4 linked regions of the Homo sapiens genome follow. The protein of the gene in region 2 purifies or fractionates together with the protein of the main gene of each other region. This does not show direct contact. Each region holds a gene or a part of one and is shown on either strand. Other genes may lie near its edges.

What was found.
Region 1: the proteins of TRMT61B (region 2) and NDUFAF5 purify together in Homo sapiens (co-immunoprecipitation; 3 studies listed by BioGRID and IntAct, with this or other methods). This does not show direct contact.
Region 3: the proteins of TRMT61B (region 2) and DBT purify together in Homo sapiens (co-immunoprecipitation; 3 studies listed by BioGRID and IntAct, with this or other methods). This does not show direct contact.
Region 4: the proteins of TRMT61B (region 2) and PPTC7 purify together in Homo sapiens (affinity purification with mass spectrometry; 3 studies listed by BioGRID and IntAct, with this or other methods). This does not show direct contact.

What each region holds. Positions count from the first base shown.
Region 1 is NC_000020.11:13,802,020-13,809,041, reverse strand, and holds part of NDUFAF5 (arginine-hydroxylase NDUFAF5, mitochondrial), read right to left. Parts: intron 5,893-7,022; coding exon of another isoform or gene 5,710-5,892; exon of another isoform or gene 5,626-5,709; intron 201-5,625; coding exon 140-200; intron 1-139. UniProt on the Homo sapiens protein: Arginine hydroxylase that mediates hydroxylation of 'Arg-111' of NDUFS7 and is involved in the assembly of mitochondrial NADH:ubiquinone oxidoreductase complex (complex I, MT-ND1) at early stages. May also have methyltransferase activity.
Region 2 is NC_000002.12:28,867,292-28,874,879, reverse strand, and holds the start of TRMT61B (tRNA (adenine(58)-N(1))-methyltransferase, mitochondrial precursor), read left to right. Parts: upstream 1-4,570; 5' UTR 4,571-4,602; coding exon 4,603-5,301; exon of another isoform or gene 5,302-5,320; intron 5,321-7,588.
Region 3 is NC_000001.11:100,239,827-100,246,848, forward strand, and holds part of DBT (lipoamide acyltransferase component of branched-chain alpha-keto acid dehydrogenase complex, mitochondrial isoform 1 precursor), read right to left. Parts: intron 4,777-7,022; exon of another isoform or gene 4,717-4,776; intron 1,059-4,716; coding exon 935-1,058; intron 1-934. UniProt on the Homo sapiens protein: The branched-chain alpha-keto dehydrogenase complex catalyzes the overall conversion of alpha-keto acids to acyl-CoA and CO(2).
Region 4 is NC_000012.12:110,580,305-110,588,207, forward strand, and holds the start of PPTC7 (protein phosphatase PTC7 homolog), read right to left. Parts: upstream 3,015-7,903; 5' UTR 2,728-3,014; coding exon 2,505-2,727; intron 1-2,504. UniProt on the Homo sapiens protein: Protein phosphatase that plays an essential role in mitochondrial metabolism and biogenesis. Positively regulates biosynthesis of the ubiquinone, coenzyme Q. Dephosphorylates the ubiquinone biosynthesis protein COQ7 which is likely to lead to its activation.

The sequences.
Region 1 (7,022 bases), on a different chromosome or scaffold from region 2:
ACAATGGATCCCTAGTGCTTTGCCCAGTGCCTGCCAAAGAGCTGGCTCTCAAAATGTTTCTCTCAAATGGAGTCTAAAAATTCTTTTTTTTTGGCCTACCTTTCCCAATGGAGTCTAAAAATTCTTTAAAGTGCCTTACCTTGTAAATCTTCCATCAATTCAAACATTCCAGGATAGTTAACTTGAATTTCATCAGTGTCCTATTTAAAAAGAAAAAGAAATATTCATTTGACATTCATGATACAAAATTCCAGATTTAAAAAAGAGGCCGCAGAGACTACCCAGACCAATCTCCCATGCTAAGCAAAAAATATTTACAATATTCTTCATAGATGTCATCTGGCTTATGTTTGATTTATGAAAGTCTCTAATTGCTGATTAAATATCCTGCATTGTGAGAGAAATCATCCTAAAACTCCATCATTGGTTCTAGTTCTCTCTTTGGGAACCACACAGAATAAGAGTATTCTGTACCCTACAAACCATTGCCCTCTCCTCCAAGTCTTTGAAAACCTTCAGGACACAAAAATCTGGAGATCCTTACATGTTCTGACTACATGTCCCTGGACAGTGTCAATATCAATCTTTCTTAAAATGGGGCACCTAGAATCAAAATATTTCATTCTATATCTAGTAATGCAGCCAATAGGCTTGTTTAGGAAATGAGCACATTGCTGATACATGTGGAGTTTGTTTCTCAAATGAACAATTGGGTAATGACTTCCTCTTCTTTTTGAAGCCTGATACAGGACTTAACTGTTGGTACAGTGGCAGAGACCACTGATGCTCCCCAAATATCCAGGTGCTCCTTGACACTTCCCAATCTCAAACACATATTTCTTTTGGCCAAAGAAAGGAGGGGCAAGACAGTTAAGAGCTAGAGCCTTTTCCAGGCCATCTCTTTTGCTGTGGTGATCTTATAGAACACAGGGCCAGATTATAGAACACAGGGCCAGATGGCACAGCTACAAGATGGAGATGGGCTGTCCCACCAGCACGCAGCTGTGATGTGATAAAACTTTATTGTGTTAGGCACTAAAAGTAGGGGTTTATTCTTATTGGAAACTAGCCTAAAATAATTTTTTTTTTTTTTAAGACGGATTCTTGCTGTGTTGCCCAGGCTGGAATGCAGTGGTGTGATCTCTGCTCGTTGCAGCCTCTGCCTCCTGAACTCAAGCGATTCTTGTGCCTCAGCCTCCCGAGTAGCTGGGATTACAGGCGCCTGCCACCGTGCCCAGCTAATTTTTTTTTTTTGTATTTTTAGTAGAGACGGGCTTTCACCGTGTTAGCCAGGCTGGTCTCGATCTCCTAACCTTGTGATCCACCAGCCTCAGCCTCCCAAAGTGCTGGGATTCCAAGTGTGGGCCATGGCGCCTGGCTGGAAACTAGCCTAAAATAAATCTAAACATCATTAATAGAGGACTGGTTAAACAAATTAAAGAATATGTATTCTATAAAATACTGTACAGTTCTCAAAAAATAAGGTAGATACATGTCTATAGGAAAAAAATCTCCAAGACATGTTATTGACTGGAAAAAAAAAAGCAAAAGAGTGCATGTAATATTATATAAGTAAGTTTAAATGACATAAGTGTATTCTATGGGTCTATAAAAAAAAGTGGATCTGAAACGATGTCTAAGACACAGCTAACAAATCTTTGGGGAAAGGGACCAGGGTTTGAGAAGTCAGGAGGAGGGACAGGCACGATGGCTCATGCCTGTAATCCCAGCACTTTGGGAGGCCGAGGCAGGCAGATCATGAGGTCAGGAGATCGAGACCATTCTGGCTAACATGGTGAAACCCCATCTCTACTAAAAATACAAAAAATTAGCCAGGCATGGTGGTTGGTGCCTGTAGTCCCAGCTACTTGGGAGCCTGAGGCAGCATAATCGCTTGAACCCGGGAGGCAGAGGTTGCAGTGAGCCGAGATCACGCCACGGCACTCCAACCTGGGTGAAAGAGCAAGACTCCATCTCAAAAAAAAAAAAAAAAATTGCTGGGTGTGATGGCACATGCCCTTGGTCCCAGCTATTTGGGAGGCAGAGGCATGAGAATCCCTTGAACCTGGGAGGCAGAGGTTGCAGTAAGCGGAGATCTCGCCACTGCACTCTAGCCTGGGCAACAGAGGGAGAAGTCAGGAAGAGGAGACTTCGTTTCACTTTACACCCCACTGTATCACTCTCTCTATATATACCTTACTCTTCTTTAAAAAAACATATACGTGTATCAGGTTGTGTATGCTTTTTAATGAGACCTCTAGGTAGTGAGACCATGAACATTCATCATCCATATACTTTTCCATATTAACAAGCTGTTTTTAAGAGGAGATCCTAAGATTAAAAACAAAATTCTTTCCAGGCTGTTATCTAGCCATTAAGCAATATCCTTTGAAAACAATTCTTCAGTGCAACCAACTAAAAGCACTATCTCCACTTCAATCAAAAGAATGCCACAACAGCTTTGTTGAAGGCCTTATTTAAATTAAAAGGGGACCATATCTGCACCATTTTTTTTATTTTATTTTTGAGACGGAGTCTCACTTTGCCACCCAGCGCCCAGGCTGGAGTGCAGTGGTGCGATCTCGGCTCACTGCAACCTCCGCCTCCCAGGTTCAAGCTATTCTACTGCCTCAGCCTCCCAAGTAGCTGGGACTACAGGCCATGTGCCACCACGCCCAGCTAATTTTTTTGTATTTTCAGCAGAGACGGGGTTTCACTGTGTTAGTCAAGATGGTCTTGATCTCCTGACCTTGTGATCTGCCTGCCTTGGCCTCCCAAAGTGTTAGGATTAGAGGCGTGAGCCACCGTGCCAGGCCTTGCACCATTCTCTTAAAGTACTAGTCTGGTAGTTCAGTTCTAAAACGGAAATCAGCTTTACTTAGAATGCTCATTCTCTGAAAATAATTCATTAAGATGAAAATACATTAAGATGTAAATACATCTATATGATACTAATCTGACTCGATTTCACTTTAAAAATAAAAATCCATTGTAGCGTAAAAGTAATATATCTAATGTATGCAACATAAACCTGTATAGCTGATTATACAAAAGCTTTTTTGGATGGGAATTTTTAGAAAATGAATTAGAACACATATTATTATTATTTTTTTTGGAGACAGGATCTTGCTCTGTCACACAGGCTGGAGTGCAGTGGTGAGATCATGGCTCACTGCAGCCTCAACGTCCCAGGCTCAATCCTTCCAACTCAGCCTCCCGAGTAGCTGGGACTACAGGCAGGCCCAGCTATTTAAAAAAATTTTTTTTTAGAGATGAGGACTCCCTATGTTGCCCAGGCTGGTCTTGAAATCCCAGGCTGAAGTGATTCTCTGACCTAGGCCTCCCAAAGTGCTGAGATTATGGGAGTGAACAACTGTGCCTGGCCAGGACGCAATATTAATACAGCACCTCAGAAACAAAACTGTATACATGCCTCACAGGATAAATGTAATGATTCAAGAAGACATTCTCATAACTTTCTTATTAAATCAGCAACTTTCTAATTGTATAAACTAAAGAAGATTCTACACCAATATTTTTATATTATATTAAAGTATGAGTCATTAGGCTCATTTTTAGAGAATATGGATAGTATTCTGAATTATATTTCCCAATTAATAGAAATGTAGGCTTTTAAACATTTTAACATCAGGTTAAACATTTTTAGTAGAAATCTTTCTAAAACTCATTCTTTATAACCACAGAAAACCATGTGTAGTTCACATAATTTAACTTTCTTCTGGTGATTAGCAGAAATCCCATTTTTTTCGTAATGGGCAATAACTTTTGAGTCCTGTAATATTGCTGACTAACCTGTATGACCTCGTATAAATTTTTTAACATCACCTCATGAAAATGTGCACTACACATCGCCACACCATCCCAGCCCTACACCTCCTATACTTTTTAGAGGCTTTACATTCCCGGAGATTCTTTTTTCATCTCAATGATAGGTTGGTGACACAGCAATATAGGAGACGATTCTCAAGAGGGTAGACTGTAAAGGAAATTTTTTCCATATTATAAGTAAAATAAATATTATCAAAAAGGCTTTAAATCACTGGTTCCTAATCTATTTTTAGTTATATTAGCTCTCTCAAGATCTGATGAAAACCATGGGTACTTTCCTCCATTTATGAACACCACCACCACAAATTTTGTGTACAACATCCCAGTATTATTGAACGGTCTAAAGTTTACCAACAGGCCTGCTATAAACCCAAAAACACCACGCAGGGATTTCTGTTTTGTTCACTGCTATATTTGAAGTACCTAGGATAGTACCAGACACACAGAAGGTACTCAGTAAATGTTTGTTGCAAGACTGAATACATAAATGAATTTGTATAGAAGGATATTCACTGCAGCATTGCTACTATTGGCAAAAAATCAGAACAAACCTAAAGGTCATTCACAGGTAAATAGTTAAGTAAAACTGTGGTACATTCATACTAGGAAATAATATGCGGAAATTAAGGAGTGCAAATATATCCATACCAATTTAGAAAACTATTAACAGTATATTGGAAATACATATACTGTTAATAAAAAAAGTTTCAGAAATGTGTGAATACATATGACTGTCTATATAAAGTAGTCCTTGTTAAAAAAAAAAAAGTCTGGAAGGTTACACACTAAAGTGATAATAGTAGCTACCTCTAGGACAGTAGTTCTCCAAGTGTGGTTTGGAGAGTCCTGGGGTCCCTAGGACTTTTTTGGGGGTCCACAAAGTCAAAATTATTTTCATAATAATACCAAGATACTATTTGGCTTTTTACCTCTTATTCTACGATGGGTTATTTTAGAGGAGACATGACATGACACATGGTGTAACAAGAAACTTGAATGCAGAAACAGACATGAGAATCTAGCTCTGTTACTAAGGTGCACATTAACTGGCAAAAATGTGAAGCAATGTCATTCTTCCCTTTCAATTATTTTTGTTTTAGAAAATATGGCCAGACGCAGCGGCTCATGCCTGTAATCCCAGCACTTTGGGAGGCTGAGGTGGGCGGATCACTTGAGGTCAAGAGTTCGAGACCAGACTGGCCAACATGGTGAAACCCCATCTCTACTAAAAATACAAAAATTAATGGGGCGTGGTGGCACGTGCCTGTAATCCCAGCTGCTCGGGAGGCTGAGGCAGGGGAATCACTTGAACCTGGGAGGGAGAGATTGTGGTGGGCCAAGACCGTGCCATTGCACTTCAGCCTGGGTGGCAGAGTGAAACTGTCCCCCCCCCAAAAAAAAAATTAAAAGAAAATATAGTTATTTTTTATTAAAAAGGGTCATTTATGTTAACAAGTAATAGGTATATTATTGTTAGCTTTAAATGAATACGAAAACAAATTCAGTTTTAATGTCTAATATAGTGAATACTGACAGATGTTAATTCACTATACAAAAAGCCCTTTAAAAGTTTCTTCATTACTTTTCAGTGTGTAGTGGGGTCCTGAGACCAAAATTTTGAGAACTCTTACTCTCAAGAGAGAGCTAAGCATTTTTAGGATTAAGGGGGAATGACAGACTTTCGCTTTATCTGTATAGCTTAATAGTTACAACCAAAATATATTTGTGTTACTTATACAATTACAAATATAAATACAATGATCCTTCAGTGTACAATTGCCTGTATTAATAGTGTTTATTTTCATTACAAAGTAGAGCACTCATGTGAAGCGGTTTTCCGCTTTCTAGCCGAGCAACCTCTCAGGATGCAGTTTCTATGGACTCAGGCCATTTAAAAGTTAACAAAAGATCAACACTAGTCACAGGTGTGAAGCCTCCGGGGTTCTCTTCAGTTCCCAGCCTAGTCCTCCAGCCTGTTAATTCTTCCCTCCCTGGAGGCTCCTTTCCAACATCAGGGGCCCTGCTTGCCCATGCCCCTTGCTTCTATAAAAACAAGGAAGGATATGACACAATCTATTTTTGGTTGGTTGATTTCATGAATATATTCACACAAAATCATGCCAAACAGCTATTTTAGCGTTTAAGCTTATCATCTCTAATTATGTAGCAAGATGCTTTCTTCATCAAGAAATTCCTATTTCCACTAATCAGGTTTAGGGATGTTTCTAGGCCTGAGGGGTTTGGAAATTCATATTAAGTCTACTGGACTGATCTCTGAAGAGAGTAATGACATCCTTTAGAAAGACTGTTAGTGGAGGGAGGAAGAAGAGGGCAATCATTCTCTCCAGATGGCTGTCTCTTGGAAGCCTAGTTCTAGAAAAATGCTGGGAGTAGAGTGATGGGGAAAGAGGAAGGCAGGAGCTAATGTAAGCTGAGCATCTACCATGGTCCTGGTACTTCACACCCTTTATCTCTTTAAAGGGTGAGGTGAGTAACATTTGCTTTTTTTTTTTTTTTTTTTGAGACGGGAATTTCACTCTTGTTGCCCAGGCTGGAGTGCAATGGCGTGATCTCAGCTCACTGCAACCTCCGCCTCCCGGGTTCAAGCAATTCTCCTGCCTCAGCCTCCAGAGTAGCTGGGATTACAGGCATGCATCACCACAATTCGCTGATTTTTTGTATTTTTAGTAGAGACGGGGTTTCACTACGTTGGCCAAGTTGGTTTCAAACTCCTGATCTCAGATGATCCACTTGCCTCGGCCTCCCAAAGTGCTGGGATTACAGGCGTGAGCCACCGCACCCAGCCACACATTTGCATTTTTAAAAGAAATAAATGCTCAAAAAGGTAAGTTACTCAAATTTCCCTATCTAGTAAAGAAATAGGGTAAGGATCCAAGTTACTCCTGTCGGAGAACAAAGTCCTACTGTCCTACCCCGTCACCGTACCATGCTGACTTCATGCTTATTACTCACTGATTGCCCATGGGTCTTCTTTCGAGATTTCTCTAGCCCTAATGGAGTACAGCACCCTGTCCTACCTTCTTTAGCCTTGATCTCACCCTAGGCCTTGAGAACACACATTCTCTCATTTCTGCTTCATATGGCACTGTTTGGGGGTAGTTATTGGTGGTAATATTACAGGTTCCCCTACTTATCCCCTTTTCTTCCTATCA
Region 2 (7,588 bases):
ATTTTGGGAGGCTGAGGAGGGAGGATTGCTTGAGGCTAGGAATTGAGACTGCCCTGGTCAACATAGTAAGACCCTGCATCTACAAAAAATTTTTTTTAAATTATGGCCAACCGCGTGGCTCACACCTGTAATCCCAGCACTTTGGAAGGCCAAGGCAGGTGGATCACTTGAGGTCAGGAGTTTAAGACCAGCCTGCCAACATGGTGAAACCCCGTCTCTACTAAAAATAGAAAAATTAGCCAGGGGTGGTGGCATGAGCTTGTAATCCCAGTTACTCGGGAGGCTGAGGCAGGAGGATCACTTGAACCCGGGAGGCAGACCTTGTAGTGAGTCAAGAGAATGCTACTGCAGTCCAGCCTGGGTGATGGGAGTGAAACCCTGTAAAACAAAACAAAACAAAACAAAACAAAACAAAACAAACAAACAAACAAAACAAAAAAACAAAAAAAAACAAAAAACATTGGCTCACGCATGTATTCCTAGCACTTTGGGAGGCTGAGGCAGGTGGATCACCTGAAGTCAGGAGTTCGAGACCAGCCTGGCCAACATGGTAAAACCCCATCTCTACTAAAAATACAAAAATTTGCTGGGCATGGTGGTGGGTGCCTGTAATCCCAGCTACTTGGGAGGCTGAGGCAGGAGAATCGCTTGAACCCAGAATGGGGAGGTTGCAGTGAGCTGAGATTGCGCCATTGCACTCCAGCCTGGGCGACAAGAGCAAGACTCTGTCTTTAAAAAAAAAAAAAAAATTGCCATGCATTGGTGGCACATGCCTGTAGTCCCAGCTACGCTGGAAGCTGAATCAGGGCAATTGCTTGAGCCCAGGAGTTCGATGCTGCAGTAGGCTATGATGGCACCACTGCACTCCACCCTGGGTGACAGAGCAAGACCCTATTTCTAAAATAAAAACAAAAACAGGCAGGACCCACTGGGAGCAGAAGTGAAAGGCACTACTCTAGGTCTTTTGGGATTGGTACAAAGCCACCATTCCAGTGGTACTGTGAGGTTGATAGCTGGAGGACAAGGGAAAACTACACAAAATAGAGTGAAGAAGCATGTGCAAAGAGCTGGAGGAGATCACCTGTGGAACTAGAACTGGTTGCCTGTTTGGAGATTTTAAAATGCCAGCCATCAGCCATGGTATTTATTGAGAACTATTCAGATTTTAAAGTAAATGCTTAACTAAATGTCACTAGAAAACAGTATTTTTCTTAGCCTTATAATGTAAACATGGGCTGGGCGCGGTAGCTTACGCCTGTAATCCCAGCATTTTGGGAGGCCGAGGTGGGTGGATCACCTGAGGTCAAGAGTTCAAGACCAGCCTGGCCAACATGGTGAAACACAGTCTCTACTAAAAATACAAAAAATTAGCCAGGCGTGGTGGCACAGGCCTGTAATCCTAGCTACTCAGGAGGCTGAGGCAGGAGAATCACCTGAACCCAGGAGGCAGAGGTTGCAGTGAGCTGAGATCGTGCTATTGTACTCCAGACTGGGTGACAAGAGCAAAGTTCCGTCTCAGTAAATAAATTAAGTAAGTAAACATGATAAGTTGACGATGTATCACAAATTCATCATCAAGATAATAGTTTCAGAGTGCAGGCTGACAATTTCATAGGGAAAGCAGAAGTAAAGGATAGCCAGAAATAGAAAGGCCCACATAGTGACTTCTTTTTTAAGAATTTCAATGCTCTGAAAGATCATGAATAAATAATATTATTTTCCAAAATGTACTAATGTATTTCATTAGATGTGTATAAAACAAAATACGTATAACATTGTGGCTGTTATTTAAACAATGGAAAGAAAGTGATGCCATTTTCCATTTACAATTTGTTTTAAAAATCAAAGATATGTAAATTTACTTCCCATATTTTGTTAGTGTATTTTCTTTTTTTCCAATTCCTGCTTATTCTGAAATAACAGCCAAGTATCATTTGATAATACTCAAGAAATAATAAAGTAGGTATGATAACTTTTAAAACCACCATAGGGCTTAGAGTTCAGGAGGTTCCGGCTCAGACCCATGTTTGGCAATGATAATCTCCTTAATTTCAAGAATTTTATAACCAAAAATGAGTTTTTGTCTTAGAAAGCCTATCACAAGAAAAAGTAGTGAGAAAAGCCTACGACTCCAGAAACTATTGGTCATAACTTTTCCTAAAAAGCAAACTACACAAAGTGAGACACGCAGTTGGGGTGTGGAGAGAGCAGTTTCTTTATTCATTTTTAGAATTAGAAGGGAGAAATTTGGCTGGGTGCAGTGGCTCATGGCTGTAATTCCAGCTCTTTGGGAGACTGAGGTGGGTGGATCACCTGAGGTCAAGAGTTCAAACCAGCGTGGCCAACATGGCGAAACCCCGTCTCTACTAAAAATACAAAAATTAGCTGGGTATGGTGGTGCACACCTGTAATCCCAGCTATCTGGGAGGCTGAGGCAGGAGAATTGCTTGAACCTGGGAGGCAGACATTGCAGTGAGCCGAGATCATACAACTGCACTCCAGCCTGGGCGAGAGTGAGACTCTGTCTCACAAAGAAAAAAAAAGGAAAAAAAGAAGGGAGAAATCCTGTTGATGGAGTTTATGGTGGCTGATGTCCTAGAAAGTACTGATTAGAAAGTATTAATTTATGTCTTAGAAAGTAATAACGGCCAGGCGCGGTGGCTCATGCCTGTAATCCCAGCACTTTGGGAGGCCGAGGCGGGTGGATCATGAGGTCAGGAGTTCGAGACCAGCCTGGCCAACATGGTGAAACCGAGTCTCTACTAAAAATACAAAAATTAGCCTGGCATGGTGGCAGGTGCCTGTAACCCCAGCTACTCGGGAGGCTGAGGCAGGAGAATCGCTTGAACCCAGGAGGCAGAGGTTGCAGTGAGCCAAGATCGTGTCATTGCACTCCAGCCTGGGCAACAAGAGCAAGACTCTGTCTCAAATAAAAAAAAAAAAAAAGAATAACAAGATTTATTTCATCAAATTTAAACAGAATTCACATTGACTTCACAGCCCTTTGAATATACTTGGACTTTAAGTTCAACTGTGCTGTTGACCAGTCTTTCCAAACGGTGTTACAGTACAAAGAGCATGGGCTGCTGAACCAGACTGACTAAATAGGAAACTCTGCAATGCCACTTGTCAGCTATGCATCTTGACCAACTTATTATTATTATGTTGCACGTGGGTCTTGAAATCCTGGGCTCAAGCAATCCTCTGGCCTGGGTCTCCCAAAGTGTTGGGGTTACAGGTGTGAGCCACCACTCCTGGTTTCCCCAAATTATTTAATCTCCCTGGGCCAGTTCTTTTACTCATAAAATGGATTTGTTTCTAACACAGAATTGTTGGAAACTTAAATGAGTGTCTAACGTGCCTCGTATTGCCAGACTCTCAATAAACTTTTGCCCAGTCAACTAATATCCAGCAAAGAGGCTAGCGATTTTTCTTTTTTTTTTGAGACAGAGTTTTGCTGTGTCGCGCAGGCTGGAGTGCAGTGGTAGCTCGATCTTGGCCCGCTGCAACCTCCGCCTCCTGGGTTCAAGCTATTCTCATGCCTCAGCCTCCCTTGTAGCTGGTATTACAGGCGTGCACCATCGCGCCCGACTAATTTTTTTCCCCCGAGAGGAGTTTTGCTCAGTCGCCCAGGCTGGAGTGCAGTGCCGAGATCTCAGCTCACTGCAACGTCTGCCTCCCGGGTTCAAGCGCTTCTCCTGCCTCAGCCTCCCGAGTAGCTGGGATTACAGGTGCGTGCCTCCACGCCCAGCTAATTTTTGTATTTTTAGTAGAGACGGGGTTTCACCACATTTGCCAGGCTGGTCCCGAACTCCTGACCTCAAATGAGCCGCTTGCCTCGGTCGGCTTCCCAAAATGCTGGGAGGCTAGTGATATTTAACGCTAAATAACTCTGGCCTCCAAAGATACCTGTTTCCATTTTAAGACACTTCTATTTCGTTTTGGGAGGGTAAACTAGTTATATTTTAATAATGAAAACATGTGTTACATAAGCACATAGTGAGTACTCGAATCAACCTCGGACTCTCCGGGCGTGAGGGGTGGGTGAGGGGACCGGCAGGTGGTCACAGCCCCATCAAAAGGGAGTTGGGGCTGGGGGATGTCGCGGTCAACTGGGAAAGGAGAGCCAATCAGCAAGTGGCGCGTCCCACGCCGTCTGTCAAATGCATCTGGGGGTTAGCTGTACTCATACATCTTGTGGGTGACTAGGTGACTTCCGTGTTCAAGACACAAGCGAGCTAAGCCTGGGATTTCAGTTTGCACAGCGCTTTGTTAAGTTTTGTCTCTCAATCTTGCTGTCCAAGAGCGAACCTGGAGGTCGTCTGTTAGCGGTAAATTCTTTACCCACATTCCGAAAAGGAAAACGGCGGCCGCGCGCGAGGACATATTCCTTGGATGGTCACTCAACCAGGACTCCGCTGCTCCCGCGCCCTAGCTTGACCTAGCGCACCGCCCCCTCCCCGACGCAGGCGCAGTCGCGGAGCTGTAGAGCCCCACGCAGCTGCAGAGCCATCGGGCTGCTGCGCCATGCGCGCGACTGGGAAAGAAGGGGTCGCGCTAGGCTTGCGTCACTCGTCTGCGACGGCGCCTTCGCGAAACACTATGCTAATGGCATGGTGCCGCGGTCCTGTCTTGCTGTGCCTGCGGCAGGGGCTCGGAACCAATTCATTCCTGCACGGCCTGGGGCAGGAGCCCTTCGAGGGAGCTCGGTCACTGTGTTGCAGGTCCTCGCCTAGAGACCTGCGAGATGGAGAAAGAGAGCACGAGGCGGCACAAAGGAAAGCCCCAGGAGCAGAGTCTTGCCCATCTCTCCCTCTGAGCATCTCGGACATTGGGACTGGATGTCTTTCGTCACTGGAAAACCTCAGACTGCCGACGCTGCGGGAAGAGTCATCCCCTCGAGAGCTCGAGGACTCGAGCGGAGACCAGGGCCGGTGCGGTCCCACACACCAGGGATCCGAGGATCCTTCGATGCTCTCGCAGGCCCAGTCCGCTACCGAGGTCGAAGAGCGTCACGTCTCCCCTTCTTGTTCAACTTCCAGAGAGAGACCCTTTCAGGCTGGGGAACTGATTTTAGCTGAGACTGGGGAGGGAGAAACAAAATTTAAGAAATTATTTAGGTTGAACAACTTCGGACTCTTAAATAGTAACTGGGGGGCAGTCCCGTTCGGCAAGATCGTGGGGAAGTTCCCCGGCCAGATACTGAGGAGTTCCTTCGGTAAGCAGTACATGCTGAGGAGGCCAGCCTTGGAAGACTATGTAGTATTGATGAAAAGAGGGACTGCCATAACATTCCCAAAGGTAATGCGATGGAGATAAGGTGTGTATTGGTTTCAGGAGGGGCAAAGACAGATGCAGTACTCAGTCCTGATTAATGTATTCAAAGACATCTCAGAACGTTTGGATTTTTTATTGTACTCAGGCTTTTAAAATAAACCAATGGTTATAACTTTTACATATCATGATGAAAATTAGCATTAGGGAACGGCTAGATTTTAATTTTAACTTAGGAGTCTCGAGTCCCTTATTTGTAAAATGTGGATAATAGCTCAACTTTCTGTTAGGGTGATGTGAACTCACTACGTACATAATAAGTACTAATTTTGTTCCCCATTACTCTTAAGTTTATAACTTCAGGACTCAAGAGAATGTTGAACTCTTAGGGAACAATTTTTTAGTACTACTATGATGATATTTTAATATTCAATAATCATGTTACAAGAGTATATTAACAATAGGTACATTACGGTGCTTTTCCCCTTTTAGGGAAGAAATAGAGTTTTATATTACAATAGCTAACATTCAACACCAAACATAAAATGACTATTCTTTATTAAAAAGTTAACTGCCTAAAGCCTAGTTTCAGTCTTTTTTTTAAGACAAGTTCTCACTCTGTCATCCAGGCTGGAGTGCAGTGTTGCGATCTTGGCTCCCTGCAACCTCTGCCTCCCGGGTTCAAGCGATTCTCCCACCACAGCCTCCTGAGTACCTGGGACTACAGGCATGCACCACCACCCCGGGCTAATTTTTGTAGAGACGGGGTTTCGCCTTATTGCCCAGGCTGGTCTTCAACTCGTGGCCTCAAGTGATCCGCCCACCTCGGCCTCCCAGTGCTGGGATTACAGGCGGGAGCCACCGCGCCCAGCCCTAGTTTGAAGCTTATGCTAATCATCTATTGCTAGCAGATTATTTCAATCCTTAGTCACAGTCCTTGAGTAGAATGTTCCTGTGTAACACAACTCCTCCTCCTTTCTCCAGATCAGGATTCATTCGTTATTTATTCAGCAAATTGACTGCCTTCCATACTCAAGGCACTGTTTAGGGAAGTATAGTGTTGAACTGCAGTCCTCACCCTCAACATAGACCTTACATTCTAGAAGGGGTGACAAAGAACAAACAAGTAAATGAAAGAATAAGGTCATTTCCAGTAGTGTTAAGTGTCATGAAGACAAATATATTAACAATGACATTGTTTTGGGTGACCTGGGGTATGAGCATACTTTATGTCAGGTGAGGAGAGATGGTCTCCAAGGAGGTACACTTGATAGGAAACCTAAATAAGGAAGAGCTTGCCTTGTAAACAGATCTAGGAAGAGAATTGTTCTTGCAAAGGGAGGAATGCTGCAGAGTTTCTGTTGTGGCCTCAATGGGTCAGATGAGGGACCCCGTATGAGGTGTGGTTTGAGTATTTTATTCCATTTGTAGTGAAGGACCATTAGAAGGTTCTTAGTAGGAATCCAGTCTGTATTTTAAACGGTCTACCCAGGGACTAAAAAAACTTTCCTCAGAAACTTAGGCTACTGAGGTATAATAAGCTTTTTTTGTTTAAAGACAAGGTCTTGCTATGTCACCCAGGCTAGAGTGCAGTGGCTCAATCACCTCTTACTGTAGCCTGAACCTCCCAGGCTCCAACAATCCTCGCACCTCAACCTCCTGAGTAGCTGGGACCACAGGTGCATGCCACTATGCCTAGCTAATCAAAAATTTTTTTTGTAGAGTTGGGGTCGCCCTAACTTGCCCAGACTGGTCTCAAACTTCTCTAGGCTCAAGGGATCCTCCCTTGAGGGTGCTGGGATTACAGGTGAGAACGACCGCTCCTGGCCATGGTATCATAAGCTCTTGAAGAAAACTAAAAGACTTTCGTAATTTTATCTTGCTTCCCCGTGTCTCCTTTCTCCCCATTAGACAAAATCAGGAGAGATTAGTTACATTTCATGAAGTTATAAATATGCATATTTAGTATACTTTCTGCCTTTCCATTTGTTACAGATAAAAGTCACATTGTTCCACTCTAAGGAGGAATTTAAGTACTAAATTTGTTAGGTGTTGACTTCTCTTTATAGCTTCCAAGTAATGGCTGGAGATAGTTTTACTTCAACTTCTACAACTTTGAAATGCTTGAGGGAATACCTTCACTGATGTTTAAAAACTGATCTCCCTGTTAGAATTACATAATTCCATCTTAGTATTAAAAATATGACCAGAGGCAGAGTGCAGTGGCTCACACTTGTAATCTCAATATTTTGGGAGGCTGAGGCAGGAGGATCATTTGAGCCCAGAAGTTTGAGACCAGCCGGGGCAACATAGG
Region 3 (7,022 bases), on a different chromosome or scaffold from region 2:
CACTCCAGCCTGAGCAACAGAGCTCAAAAAAAAAAAAAAAAAAAAAAAAAAAAAAAAAAGAGCATGGAAAGGCTGACTTGGGGTCTGCCTGGAATTCCCCCATTTTTCATTCCCAGCACAAACTAAGCTCCCATGTATCTGTCAAAAACTTAATAGTGTAACAAAAGTCTAGGGTTCTTTATCAGGGTTCTAAATAGAACATCAGGAAAAAAAACAGTTCTTGTGCCCTTGCCAAATCTAATACTTAATCCTTCAAGTTCTTTACAGAGGGTAGAAAAAGCTGGGGAAAAAGTAAGTAAATGGTGAAAGTCAGGGAACTTTCTATTTAGTACTAAATCAGGCTGGTTTCATCACACCATGTTCACTTGACAGATTAAGTGCTTCTTTCAACAAACAATACCACAATGTGTATGCCAACACAAAGACACCTCTATTAAGTCAACAATTTACCTTGACTGAGAAAGTCATATCAATGCTGACTATTGCACTTAGATGAGCCAGATGATAAATAGATGGCCCAACACAACCCATTCCCAATATTATAAAGACACAAGTGCTGGGCGAGATAAGTTAATGCCTGTAATCCCAGCTCTTTGAGAAGCTGAGGCAGAAGGATCACTTGAGCCCAGGAGTTCAGGTTATAGTGAGCTGTGATTACACCACTGCACTCCAATCTGGGCAACTGAGTGAGATCCTGTCTCTAAAAAAAAATTTTTTTTAAAAAGGGGTGCCAGTGTTAAGGAAAGTATGTAAAAGAGAGGGATGAGAAAAAAGAAAGTGAGAACTGGAAAAATGTGGGGAGATGGGAAGGGCCCGGCTAGAAATACAGAGTCAACTTTTTTTTGTTTAAAAAGTCTCAATCAACTACTAAAAAATATTACTGAATGAGGTACAAAACATTATTTTATACACGTTATTTTGAAATCATACTTACCAGCAGTTGTTTTCAGGAAGTGATGTGGATGACTATACTTGAATGAAGGATAACCAAAGAAACACACATAATTTGGCTTCAAAACATGAACATTACCACATGTTTGAAAATAGCGAACACAAATCTACAGATGAGAAAACAAAAAGTAAAAGCATTTATAAACAACCATACCGGCTTATCTCTAAGTATAAATTGAATTTCAATTCCATTCTAAAAGTAGAACCATTGTCACAATAGAAATATTATATCCTTAGATTTAGATTTGTTACATTTATGATCCTTACCCAAAATTCCTTCTGAAAGTAAAGACATTTTAACAGTGTATTCTGTATAAATACATCAGCTTATAGGTATGCTTAAGTCATTGGACTTCCTGAACTAAAACTACTAAAGAATTCTAAAGTAATAGTTAGCATCTAAAAACAATGAAAAACTTGTATAGTATGATACCCCAAAGTTTACTTATAGTAACTTATAGATGACTCTTTAGAATTAACTATTTTACATAGTACCTTAGTATAATATTATTTTAAAATCTCTTATAGAAATAAGTAGGCCCAAATGTATTCAACTCTATATATCAAAACCTAAGTGTCTGAAAGGTATTGTGTGTGTGTGTGTGTGTGTGTGTGTGTGTGTGTGTGTGTGTATTTGAGACATGGTCTCACTCTGTTGCCCAGGCTGGAGTGCAGTGGTGCGATCACAGTTCACTGAAGCCTTGACCTTCTAGGCTCAAGGGGTCCTCCTGCCTCAGCCTTCCAAGTATCTGGGACCACAGGCGCATGCTACCCCACCCAATTAATTTTGTTTATTATTTGTAGAGACAAGGTCTCAGTATGTTGCCCAGGCTGGACTTGAAGTCCTGAGCTCAAGCAATCCTCCCACCTCAGCCTCCCAAAGTGCTAGAATTACAGGTGCGAGCCACCATGCCAGGCCATAATATCTTATTTGGAAAGTTAATATTTCAATGCCATTAGGCCAGGCGCGGTGGCTCACGCCTGTAATCCCAGCACTTTGGGAGGCCAAGGTGGGCAGATCACGAGGTAGGGAGTTAAAGAGACCAGCCTGGCCGATATGGTGAAACCCTGTCTCTACTAACAATACAAAAGAATTAGCTGGGCTTGGTGGCATGCGCCTGTAGTCCCAGCTACTTGGGAGGCTGAGGCAGGAGAATCGCTTGAATGCGGGAGGCAGAGGTTGCAGTGAGCCGGGATCGAGCCACTGCACTCCAGCCTGGTGACAGAGCAAGACTCCATCTCAAAAAAAAAAAAATTTCAATGCTATTAATACTTAACTACATCATACTGTAAACATAAACTACAGAATTTATTTACTTATTTAATTTTAAAGCCCTGAGCTTACTTCTCTGCAGAAATTTCTAACCTTCTTAGTATAAGAATACTGATAAGTGAAACTTTTTCATGTATGTAACAGAGTCACTTTTACTTAAAAAAAAAAATCATGTACATTAGTGGTGATTAGCTCTTAACTTTTAAAGGCTATGTTATAATAAACATCATATAGTACAGTCATGTTTTAATACATATTTATAAACTAGAATTTTTGTTTTTTTCTGATAGCAAATATAAAAGTAAAAGTTTGGTTTACTGACAAGAACAATACATTTAAATTCTTATTTTTTTACTTTAAATTTCAAACTATTACTGATTTCTGAAGGCAAAGAAAAACTGAAGATCCCTTTCCTAAAACATAAATAATCTTAAATCATTCATCTTAACTTTAGAGATCACCCTAAATCGACTAGTCTTTATAATATCAACATTTTATTTTTACTAACATTAATATTCAGGAAATATAAAGCCTAACTAAAATAATTAAAATTGATAACTTAAAACCAGAAGACAATAAAAGAATTCTCTTTCCCAAACATTTCCATTTTGTTTGTCCTTGCTTTCTCCTTCAGCTCCCATAATCCTGACTCTTGGTCAACAATAAAATCAAAGGAGTGAATCAACCTCTGTTTCATCAGACATAAAACTTAGGGACAATAAAGGAAAGTTTTGAAGTATATAGATTCACCTTAATTTAAATAAAATTGTTCATATTTGTAAAACATTTGAAAGAAAATTAAACTACTAGAAGGTCTTACCTTCAACAACAACACAACTCGTATTGAACTATTCATGGGTCGGGGCAGCATAAACCACCACGCTTAACATTTATTGAGTGCCTCCCATGTGCTGAGTACTTTCTTTTCAGACAGGCCAGGCATGGTGGCTCTGGCCTGTAATCCCATCACTTTGGGAGGCTGAGGTGAGTGGATTGCTTGAGGTCAAGAGTTTGAGACCAGCCTGGTCAACATGACGAGACCCCCTCTCTACTAAAAATACAAAAATCAGCTGGACATGGTGGCACACGTAGTCCCAGCTACTTGGGAGGCTGAGGCACAAGAATCACTTGAACCTGGGAGGCGGAGGTTGCAATGAGCCAAGATCACACCACTGCACTTCAGCCTAGGTGACAGAGAGACCTTGTCTCCAAAAAAAAAAAAAAAAGAAAGAAAAAAAGAAAAATAGCCTTTTTAGACATCATCTTTTTTTCTTTTTTTTTTGAGATGGAGTTTCACTCTGTCACCCAGGCTGGAGTGCAGTGGCACGATCTCAGCTTACTGCAACCTCCGCCTCCCAGGTTCATGCGATTCTCGTGCCTCAGCCTCCCAAGTAGCTGGGACTACAGGCATGTGCCATCATGTCCAGCTAAACTTTTTTTGTGTGTATTTTAGTAGAGACGGGGTTTCATTATGTTGCCCAGGGTGCTCTCGACCTCCTCAGCTCAGGCAATCCGCCCACCTTGGCCTCTCAAAGTACTAGGATTACAGGCCATGAGCCATGGTGCCCGGCCCAGACATCATCTTTACATTTACAATTTCCCTGTGGAACATACACGTTAGCCCTCTTCAACACACGGGAAACTGATGGGAAAGGTGAAGTAATTTGTCCAAGGTCACACAGCAAATAAGTGGAACAATCGAGCTCTGAAGCTAAATAAATTTGATGTCAAAGACCCTAGAAATAGGAGAAATAATCCCTAATTTCAAAGAGTTTACAACGTATGTGAGAAAATAAACACACATACAAACACACTCAAGCATGGACATGCATGCTCTAACTTTTTGTAATAAGAGGCATAGGCTTCTTTAATATAGTCCATAGGTTTACGAAAAAAAAAAAAAAGAGACATAGGCAGTACGTGATAAAGGAGTTTAAGCAGGCCGGGCACAGTGGTTCATAGCTGTAATCTCATTGCACTCCAGCCTAGGCAACAAGAGCAAAATTCTATCTCAAAAAAAAAAAAAAAAAAAAAGGAGTTTAAGTAGAGGGGTCTGGTGGGCTTTTTTTTCACGTTAGTGTGACCTGGGAAGGCTTCTTGGAGGAAGATTTAAGCTGCACTGTGCATAATAAGCATACATAATAAAAGAGCAGAAGGGCACTTTTAAGGCAGAGGAAACAGCATAAATAAACTACAGCAGAAATTGACTTAGCATATCTGCTGGGACATTGAGCGGCTTGATTTGGCTTGACCAAAGGTATAAAAGAGAGCAATGGAAACAGCTCAAGGAGGAAATGGTTGATGACTATAATGTCAGTATAAGGAGTTTGAACTCATACATTATGGGTTATTGAAGAAAAAGGATTAGGAAATTAGTAGTGGTTTATTGAATAGATTATAACAGATAAAATCTGGAGAGAAAGGGAGAAGTCAAGAAACTATTACATACCAAAATTATCAAAAAAGGATTTTTTTAAAAAAATAACTATTACCGTATTCCTCTCTTATCTCCTTATGTGCAGTGGACACGTTCAAGATCCCCCGGTGGGTGCCTAAAACCATGGACAGTACTGAATCCTACATATTCTACATATACCGTGTTTTTCCTATATATACATACCTATGATAAAGTTTAATTTATAAATCAGACACAGTAAGACAGTAATAATAATAACTGATAATAAAATAGAAAAATTATAATAATATACTGTAATAAAGGTTTTGTGAATGTGGTCTCTCTCTCAAAATATCTTACTGTACTGTGCTCACCTATTTTCAGACTACAGTAGATCATGGCTAACTGAGACCACAGATAAGAAGGGGAGAGTACTGTATAGTATTTGAGACACAAAGCAACAGGCTCCTGACTGAGGTAATTAATAGTAGAAAAAGAAAAAAAGCAACAAAAGTACCATAGGCAGTATATGATTAATATAATAGTAATTGAATGGCTCTGAGGAGAAGGCTAAAAACACTGTGAAGTTGCTGAATAGATGGATTAACAGGCAACAGGAAAGAGGAGAAGAAATAATTTTTCAAGCTAGAATTCTAAATTTTTTTTCTAGAAACAGACTATTAGACTAGTAAATTATATTTTTTAATTTTCTTCAAAGACAGGGTTGGCTGGGTGCAGTGGCTCACACCTGTAATCCCATCTCAAATAATAATAATAATAATAAAATAAAGACAGGGTCTCACTTTTTTGCCCAGGATGGTCTTAAACTCCTGGGCTGAAGCAATCCTCCTGTCTCAGTCTCCCAGAATGCTAGGATTACAGGTGTGAGCCACCACACCCAGCTAGACTAGTAAATTAAGCATAAGGCTTTAAACCTCCAATTTTAAAAAGGCATGCTTATGGAATTATCAGTTTTATATATTTTATATTTGAAGCAATTCTAAATTCATCTATGAACAATACTAAAGACACCTAGTTCTATGGGGACCATCTGTACCAATTTGCCTGAGGTGACACCCAATTCACCTCTAGTGATTCAAGGCAATTATTAATAACACCATTTTCATTCTCAAATACATCCTGGTTGAACAACTATACGTGTAGTCTAAGTCTTAATGCAATTATTTGACTAAAATAGGTCTTTCCTTGATTTTAAAAATAATTCAGCCAGGTGCAGTGACTCATGCCTGTAATCCCAACATTTTGGGAGTCCAAAGCAGAAGGATCACTGGAGCCCAGGAGTTCAAGACCATACTGGGCAATGCATTGAGACTTTGTCTACTAAAAATCAAAATAATTAGTTGGCTGTGGTGGTGAATGCCTGTAGTCCCAGCTACTTGGGAGGCTGAGGAAGGAGGACCACTTGAGCCCAGGAGGTCAAGACTGCAGTGAGCCAAGATCATGCCACCACACTCCAGCCTGGGCAACAGAGCAAGAACTTGTCTCAAAAATAATAATAAATAAAATAAAAAATTAGGCCAGGTGCAGTGGCTCATGCCTGTAATCCCAGCACTTTGGGAGACTGAGGCAGGTGGATCACGAGGTCAAGAGATCAAGACCATCCTGGCCAACACAGCGAAACCCCGTCTCTATTAAAAATACAAAAATTAGCTGGGCATGGTGGCGCGTGCCTGCCCAGTTACTTGGGAGGCTGAGGCAGGAGAATCGCTTGAACCCGGGAGGCGGAGGTTGCAGTGAGCTGAGATTGCACCACTGCACTCCAGCCTGGTGACAGAGTGAGACGCCGTCTCAAAAAAAATAAAAATAAAAAATTAATAATTCAATATCACAACCAGGACAGAAGAACATAAAGGGAAATGAAACTGTTCACCAAAGTAGCGTATTAAGGAAATATTTAATAATAATTCAATAGGCAGCTGTTGAGCACTCCTAAAGTCAGACATTGTACTGGACTTGGAAATGCAAAGCTAAATAAGATGCAATATATAGTTCCTGAATTCAAATTGCTTACACTTTACTACAGGAAGACAGACACAACAGAAAAATTCCAAATGGCATGATTAATCAAGAGTCAAATGCATTATGTCCTAGGGAAATGTAAAACACAACATTATAAGGCTATTTTAATAATTTACTACGGGGGTAAGAACTGTTTTTGCTTACAACTTTTTAGAAGAGTTTACAAACCTGACTTTTTTTTTTACTGAGTCATTTAAAAAATATTTATGCACACCTACAATGTGCCAGGCACTTGGGATTATACAGAGAACAAAACAGATGCAATTTCTTCCCTTATAGAATGCACAGTACAGTGAAAGGTAAAGACAAGTAAACCGGTGATTATAACACGTGCTATAATGAAGGAAATAGAGTGTGTTAAGG
Region 4 (7,903 bases), on a different chromosome or scaffold from region 2:
TATCCCACTCCATTAAGAAGGTAGCCTTCCAAAATTTTATTGTATTTTTTTTGAGACGGAGTCTTGCTCTGTTACCCAGGCTGGAGTGCAGTGGTGTGATCTCGGCTCACCGCAACCTCCATCTCCCAGGTTCAAGCAATTCTCCTGCCTCAGCCTCGCTAGTAGCTGGGACTACAGGCGTGTGCCACCACACCTGCCTAATTTTTGTATTTTTTAGTAGAGACGGGGTTTTGCCATGTTGGCCAGGCTGGTCTCGAACTCCTAACCTCAGGTGATCCGCCCACCTCCGCCTCCCAAAGTGCTGGGATTACAGGCGTGAGCCACCACGCCCGGTCTAGCCTTCCAAAATTTTAAAATCAAGCTTCCATATAGAATTTGATACATTTAAATACTCCCCAAATCATCAATCAAGTCACGGATCTTTCACAAAAGTCGCATACAGATTTTTTATTTTATTTTTTTTTTGAGACGGAGTCTCGCACTGTCGCCCAGTCTGGAGTGCAGTGGCACGATCTTGGCTCACTGAAGCCTCCACCTCCCTGGTTCAAGAGATTCTCCTGCCTCAGCCTGTTGAGTAGCTGGGACTATAGGCATGCGCCATCACGCCCGGCTAATTTTTGTATTTTTAGTAAAGACTGGGTTTCACCATATTGGTCAGTCTGGTCTTGAACTCTTGACCTCATGATCCACCCGCCTCAGCCTCCCAAAGTGCTGGGATTATAGGAGTGAGCCACCACGCGCAGCCCAGCATACAGATTTATGAGGTGAACCTTAGAGGCTCATTATCCCCTATCCTATGTTATGAACACAACTTTAAGAAGCAACACAGGGGCCAGGCTCACACTTGTAATCCCAGCACCTTGGGCGGCCGAGGCGAACACGAGGCCGATCACGAGGTCAGGAGTTCGAGACCGGCCTGGCCAACACAGTGAAACCCCATCTCTACTAAAAATACAAAAATTAGCTGGACATGGTGATGGGCGCCTATAATCCCAGCTACTCGGGAGGCTGAAGCAGGAGAATCGCTTGAACCGGGGAGGCGGAGGCTGCAGTGAGCCAAGATTGCGCCACTGCACTCCAGCCTGAGTGACAGAGGTAGACTCCGTCTGAAAAAAAAAAACGCAGCACAGGTCACAAGCTCATTGAGTGAGGCACTTCTAAATGTATCAGGGAAGACAGCCACTGACAGCTGACTTCGGGGTGGATTTGTACAATTTCAATCTGCAAGCTGCAGGACCTTTCTAAGTCTCCCTCTCATGTTAATATCAATAGCGTTGCCTAAACATTAAATGCTTTTTCTTCAACCCAGGTAATGGGGTCATTCATAAATTAAACTGAGAACAACCTTTCCAGTCCCATGTTCACAAACACTACATGTAGTAGAACCAAAGATACTAGGCAATTATTCTGAGATCAGATTAAAAAATAATTACTGTCATAAAAAAGTTACAGAATCATTTGTTCCAATGCCAAACTCTGCCTCAGCATATGAAATTTAAAGTAACCAAAAACTTAGTCTCACCTGGGAAGGGAAATCAAAGTGACATTTGAACCCAAGTTCAATGACAACACGTCCTTCAATTTCAAAGCGAGCGCATTGCTTTATTCATTCAAAGAGTTTTAACGGCACAATATCCCATAGCATACACAAAATCTCCTAAGGCGTACATTATGGTAAAGTTTCTGACTGCTTGTGAACTATATTTAGCCCTTTCTGCCAGCTCTCTCCGTAGTCTCCCACCCCCAAAAGGTATAACTGGAATAGGCCTCAGGGAGCACCTGTGGCCTGAAAAGGCTGTGACCAATCCTCAGAGCTTTACCGGCTGCAATCTACAAGTAGGCTCGACCATTCTATTTTGGATCAAGGAGACTCTGCCAACCCCCAAGTGACCGCAAGTGGACAAGATCAATTTGGGAGAAAACGCTGTGAGGGTTTTTTCGCCAAGCCAGCAGCCCCCACCGCCACACTCCGAAAAGGGTGAAGATTTGGTTACCATCCAGGCGGCGAAAGAATACGGCCGGGCTGTCTGGGGGCTCACGACTGCCTGTCGGCCGGCGATCCCGCAGCCTGGGCCGGGCTGTGGTGTCGGGAGCACGCGAAGAGGCAGGGATCCCCGGGGCATGCGGAGAGGGAACCAGAACGAGGTTAGGAGCCTGCAGGTGTCGCCCAGGGAGGGGACGAGGTCGCCCAGGGCTGGCACGGCCGAGTGAGACCGAGAGTGTGGCTCTGGACTCGGACAGACCGGTCACACTCTCGGGTTGTGACCTTGAGCACACGACTTGACCGCTGTGCGCCTTAGTTTCCTCCTCTCTAAAATGGGGGTCGTTCAAGCGGAAAACGCGCCTCGGAGCGCTTGGCACGGCGCCTGGCGCATAGTAAGCGCTCCCTCCATGTGAGCGCTCTGGCTCCTTTCGCCGCCGGGAGGAACTGGGGAAGCCCCGCGCGGGGAGTCCCCGGGAGGCGGATCCGAGGCTGGGGCAAGGGAACCGGGTCGGGGACTCACCGAGCACGTCCGCGGAACGGTGCCGGGCCACGAAGCACGCGTCGTCCCCGTAGCACGCGCCCTTCTTGAGGAGGCCCTTACGGAAGTCCTTCCCGAAGCCGCAGCCGGCCGTCACCAGTCCGTAGTCGCCGCCGCCGCCGCCGCCGGCCCTGGGGTCGGTCTGCGAGAGGCCGCCGAGCACGGCGCGGGCCACCAGCCGCCCGTACGAGAGGACCGAGAACATCGCCGCCGCCGCCCCCCCGAGGAGGCGGGGGGCCGGGGGAGCAGGAGGACGCGGAGGCCCGGAGCCGGCTCTCTCCTCAGCCGCAGTCGCGCCGCCGCTGGGGCGCTCCTCAGGGCGGCGCGCAGTGGCCGCCGCCGCCCCTGCCCGACGCGCGGGGCCTCGCACGCGCTCAGCCGCGCGCACCGGAGCCAGAGCGAGGTCAGAAGCGGCGGCTCCTCCGCCTCAGCCCAACTGAAGTCCCGGCTGCAGCGGCCGCCGCCGCCGCCGCCATCTTCCGCTCCACTAGCGTGTTCCGGGCGGTGCCGGCAGCACCGCCCCCTCCCTGGCCCTGCCCCTAGCCCCGCCCCGATTCACCGCTCAGGCCCAAGCCCAGCCCCTTGGGCTCGCTGCCTTATGCAGTCACCAAGGTTGAACATGCGCAGAGGGTGCGGACGCAGTGTCTCTTGGGAATTATAGTCCCGGAGTCGTAGTCACTTTTGACTTGGCTGCCAAAGATTTAGGACCTAGGGGGATTCCTCAGACGCGGGACCTATGTTAAGTTAGTAGGAATTGCAGGTGGGCCACGTGAGGGTTTTCTACCCTGTTTTAACCGTATCTTTTAAAGCCTGTTTTAAATAAATAACGCCACCATTCCTTTAAACAAAAACCTGCAAGAAACCAGAATGGAGTCACATAATGAGAAACAGAGGTACACAGATCTAGTGACACCTCCCCAAGTAATATACTGGAAGGATTTAGGGCGGCAAACTGTTTGGAAAGAAGAGACTTTTTGTAGTCTTTTAGGAAAAATTGAGAAAATGTTATGTGTCCCTATCAGAGTGGGAGGGGACACAGATGGTGTCATGTCCCTTTTGCTAACTGGCCTCTAGCCATGCTCACAGCTGTCTCAAGACCTTTGCCCTTGCTTTCGCTTCTACCCTTTGGAATGTAATTCGTTTACCTGAGGGTCCTGTGTTTTCTGTTGCTGTATCCCCAGAACACGTGAGCACCCAGTAAATATGTGAATGAATGAAAGAATGAATGAATATTTCACTAGATTCTAAGTTTCCCAAGGACAAGGATCATTTGCTGCTCAATTATTAGAATCTAAAGCAATGCCTGGCACACAGTAGGAGAGTGTGTAAATGTCTGTGGAATAAAAGAAGGAATAATGGGCTGGGCGTGGTGGCTCACACCTGTAATCCCAGCACTTTGGAAGGCCGAGGTGGGCAGATCACTTGAGGTCAGGAGTTCAACACCAGCCTGGCCAACATGGTCTCTACTGAAAATACAAAAAAAAATTAGCTGGGCTTGGTGACAAACGATTGTAATGCCAGCTACTCAGGAGGCTGAGACAGGAGAATCGCTTGAACCTGGGAGGCAGAGGTTGCAGTGAGCCGAGACAGCGCCACTGCATTCCAGCCTGGGAGACAGAGCTGGACTCCATCTCAAAAAAAAAAAAAGGAAGGAGTAATGGAATAAGAACACAAATGATAAAAGAAAGTCATGTTTGTTGAATACAGGAATGATTGAGTGAATGGGGTTCACAAACAACAGAAAATGAGCTTTGGGGCAAGTAATTCAATTTAGAGTAATTTTTAGTTTGATTGAAACATATATTTCTCAGAAACAGCAGTCTTTTTCTAGTTCACTTTTAACAAGACCATTGTTACTTTGGGGATTCCCACCTCGTTTTTAAATGGTCCTTTTTTATGCTTTCTTAATATATTTAAAATGCTGCCAACTATCAACTCAACACATATTATTCCGTTATCCTAATTACTGTCATCATTAAACACTTTTGCAGTTCACAGTGTGCCAAGTACTGTCTATATATATGTTTCTGTCTTTAAGAGCTTTCATCAAAATTGGACGGAAGAAATGACTTCACGTAGTGGCATTTTGTCAAATATACAGAACCCAGAAAATGTTCATTTACTGGATAAATGGTATAGTAATGACAATAATGCATTCACACCTTCCTTTTTTTTAATGGCACAAGAATTGGAGAGTGCCCAGAAGAGGGGGTAGTGCCTCTCGGAATCCTCTACTTGGCATTTATATTGCTGCCAGCTGTGCTAAAGGTAGCTCTTTCAAGTACACATACCACTACCAGATCCCAGTCAGTCTGGCAGGTAATTCTACCCCAAGGACAAACTTTTTAAAATAGCATGTCAACCCTATTTCTTGCCTCGTCAAACTCCTTCAGACTGCTCCTACTTTTCCTTTTCAGGGCATATATTACCTAATTTCCATGTCAGTCACAAGAACTGGTTTGATGGGATGAGTAGGAACCTAAAATGTGACTCTAAAGCCAGTAACTTCTGCTCCGATGGGGCTGCTGTTTTCATGATTAAGTGATACCAGTGCCTTGAGTTTCCGGCAAATGAATTTCCTGCAAGTGAGTTTCCTGCAAATGAGTTGCCCACAGAAGCACGTGGCGAACAGAATCCTTCTCAAAGCTCCTTTGCAAGTTTTAAAGGAACAGGAGATAGGGCCTCGGGTTCTCTTGAATCATTTATTCCAGAGCCAGCTCTGAAGTTTCATCACCATGGGGGAAGCCAGGAGAGGGTACTTTACAAAACACCTCCCTTCCCGTTCCTTCTCCCAGGAACACAATTCACGTTTGACATTTTGTTGGACTTAAAAAGGCCTGGATTTTCTTCCTTAACAGAGTTACATTCCTAGCACTTCAGGGATTCCTGAGAGGTCAGTTGCCACTCTTAAAGGTGAACAAGTGTGGTGAAAATACCATCTGGGCTCCCAGGGCACCTCTATGACATTAGGAAAGAGCTTTGCACTAAAGTCAGCCTCCGCTCCTAAAAAAACCAAACAAACAACAACAACAAAAAGAAGGCATGACATTTCCTAGTGAGATTTTCTGCCAGACTGGTAGGTTGATCTCTTTGGGTTCCTTTTTGCTAACCTATTCACAATGAGCACTAATTAGCTTACAGCAAGGTGTCTCAAGCTTGACACTATTGACATTTTGGGCAGGATGATTCTTTGCTGTTAGGGCTGTCCTGTGCATGCGTTGGAGGGGGCTTAGCAGCATCCCTGGCCTCTACCCACTAGAAGCCAGAAGCATGCCACCTCTGTGCCCCCAGGACAACCAAAACTGTCTCCAGATATTGCCAAATGTCCCCTGGGGGGCAAAATTGCTCCCTGATTTAGAGCCACTGTATTACGGCAATGCCATGCAAATGAGCAAATATTTGTTGAGCACTTATTATGTTCAAGTCTCTAGGCTAAGGATAAAAAAAATCAGTGATTTTGTGGCAGTCACAGTGCAGTAGGAAGGTTAAAATTAAGTAAATGTATTAAAATAATAATAACAGACTGGGTGCGGTGGCTAATGCCTGTAATCCCAGCACTTTGGGAGGCCGAGTGGGGGGTGGATCACTTGAGGTCAGAAGTTCGAGACCAGCCTGGCCAACATGGCGAAACCCTGGGTCTACTAAAAATACAAAAATTAGCTGGGAATGGTGGTGCACGCCTGTGATCCCAGCTAGTTGGGAGGCTAAGGCAGGAGAATCACTTGAACCCGGGAAGTAGAGGTTGCAATAGGCCAAGATCACGCCACTGCACTCCAGCTGGGGCAACAGAGCAAGGCTCTGGCTCAAAGTAAATAAATAAAATAATAATAAGCACCACAAGCTGAAATAAAGGAGGGGTCTGGGAAGGGGAAATGAGACCCTCTGGGGTTAGAGAACACCTGGGGCACTTCACAAAGACATGACATTTGTGAGAGGCCTGAACGGACAGACAAGTCTCTCTGTCTGTCATGCGGCATAACCAGCTCAAGAGGAGGAAAAGGATATTCAATGAATGCAGAATGTGATTGGAGAAGAGCAATGCAACCTTAGGATCTGAAAAACGAATAATAATAAATGGTGGGGCTGGGCCAGGTGCAGTGGCTCACGCCTGTAATCCAAGCACTTAGGGAGGCCAAGGCGGGTGGATCACTTGAGGTCAGGGGTTCCAGACCAGCCTGGCCAACATGGTGAAACCCCATCTCTACTAAAAATACAAAAATTAGCCGGGCGGTAGTGGCGTGCACCTGTAATCCCAGCTACTCGGGAGGCTGAGGCAAGAGAATCACTTGAGCCTGGGAGGCGGAGGTTGCGGTGAGCCAAGATCATGCCACTGCACTCCAGTCTAGGTGACAGAGTGAGACCCTGTCTCAAAAAAAAAAATGGTGAGGCTAAGAGCTGGGCAAGCTGGCAAGTGCCTGTAGTCCCAGTTACCTGGGAGGCTAAGGTTATAGAGTGTCAGGATGGAGCCTGTGAATTGCTACTGCACTCCACCCTGGACAATGTAGTGAGACCCCATTTCTAAAACAAACAAAAGCAGTATTTTAAGGAGTCAGACACAAAATACCACATACTGTATGATTCCATTTATATGAAATGTCCAGAATAGGCAAATCCATAGAGACAGAAAGTAGATTAGTGGTTGCCAGGGACTTGGGGAAGGGACAAATGGGGAGTGACTGCTCATGGGTACAGGGTTTCTATTTGGAGTGGTGAAAATATTCTGGAAGTAGATAGTGGCAATGGTTGCACAAGTTTATAAATATATGAATAATCGCTGAACTATACACTTTAAAAAGGTGAATATGGCCGGGCATGGTGGCTCATGCCTGTAATCCCAGCACTTTGGGAGGCCGGGGCAGGAGGATTGCTCGAGTCCAGGAGTTCAAGACCAGCCTGGGCAACATAGTGAGACCTCTTCTCAATAAAAAATCAAAAAATTCCTGTAATCCCAGCACTTTGGGAGGCTGAGGCGGGCAGATCACGAGATCAGGAGATCGAGACCATCCTGGCCAACATGGTGAAAACCCGTCTCTACTAAAAAATACAGAAAAAATTAGCTAAGCATGGTGGCCCGTGCCTGTAATCCCAGCTACTAGGGAGGCTGAGGCAGGAGAATCACTTGAACCAGGGAATCAGAGGTTGCAGTGAGCCAAGATTGCGCCACGGCACTCCAGCCTGGCGACAAAGCGAGATTCCATCTAAAAAAAAAATTTGGCTGAGTATACTGGTGCACATCTACAGTCCCAGCTACTTGAGAGGCTGAGGTGGGAGGATTGCTTGAGCATGGGAGGTCAAGACTGCAGTGAACTGTGATCGTGCCACTGCACTTCAGCTTAGGCAGCACAAGTGAGACCCTGTCTCAAAAAACGGGGTGGGGGGAT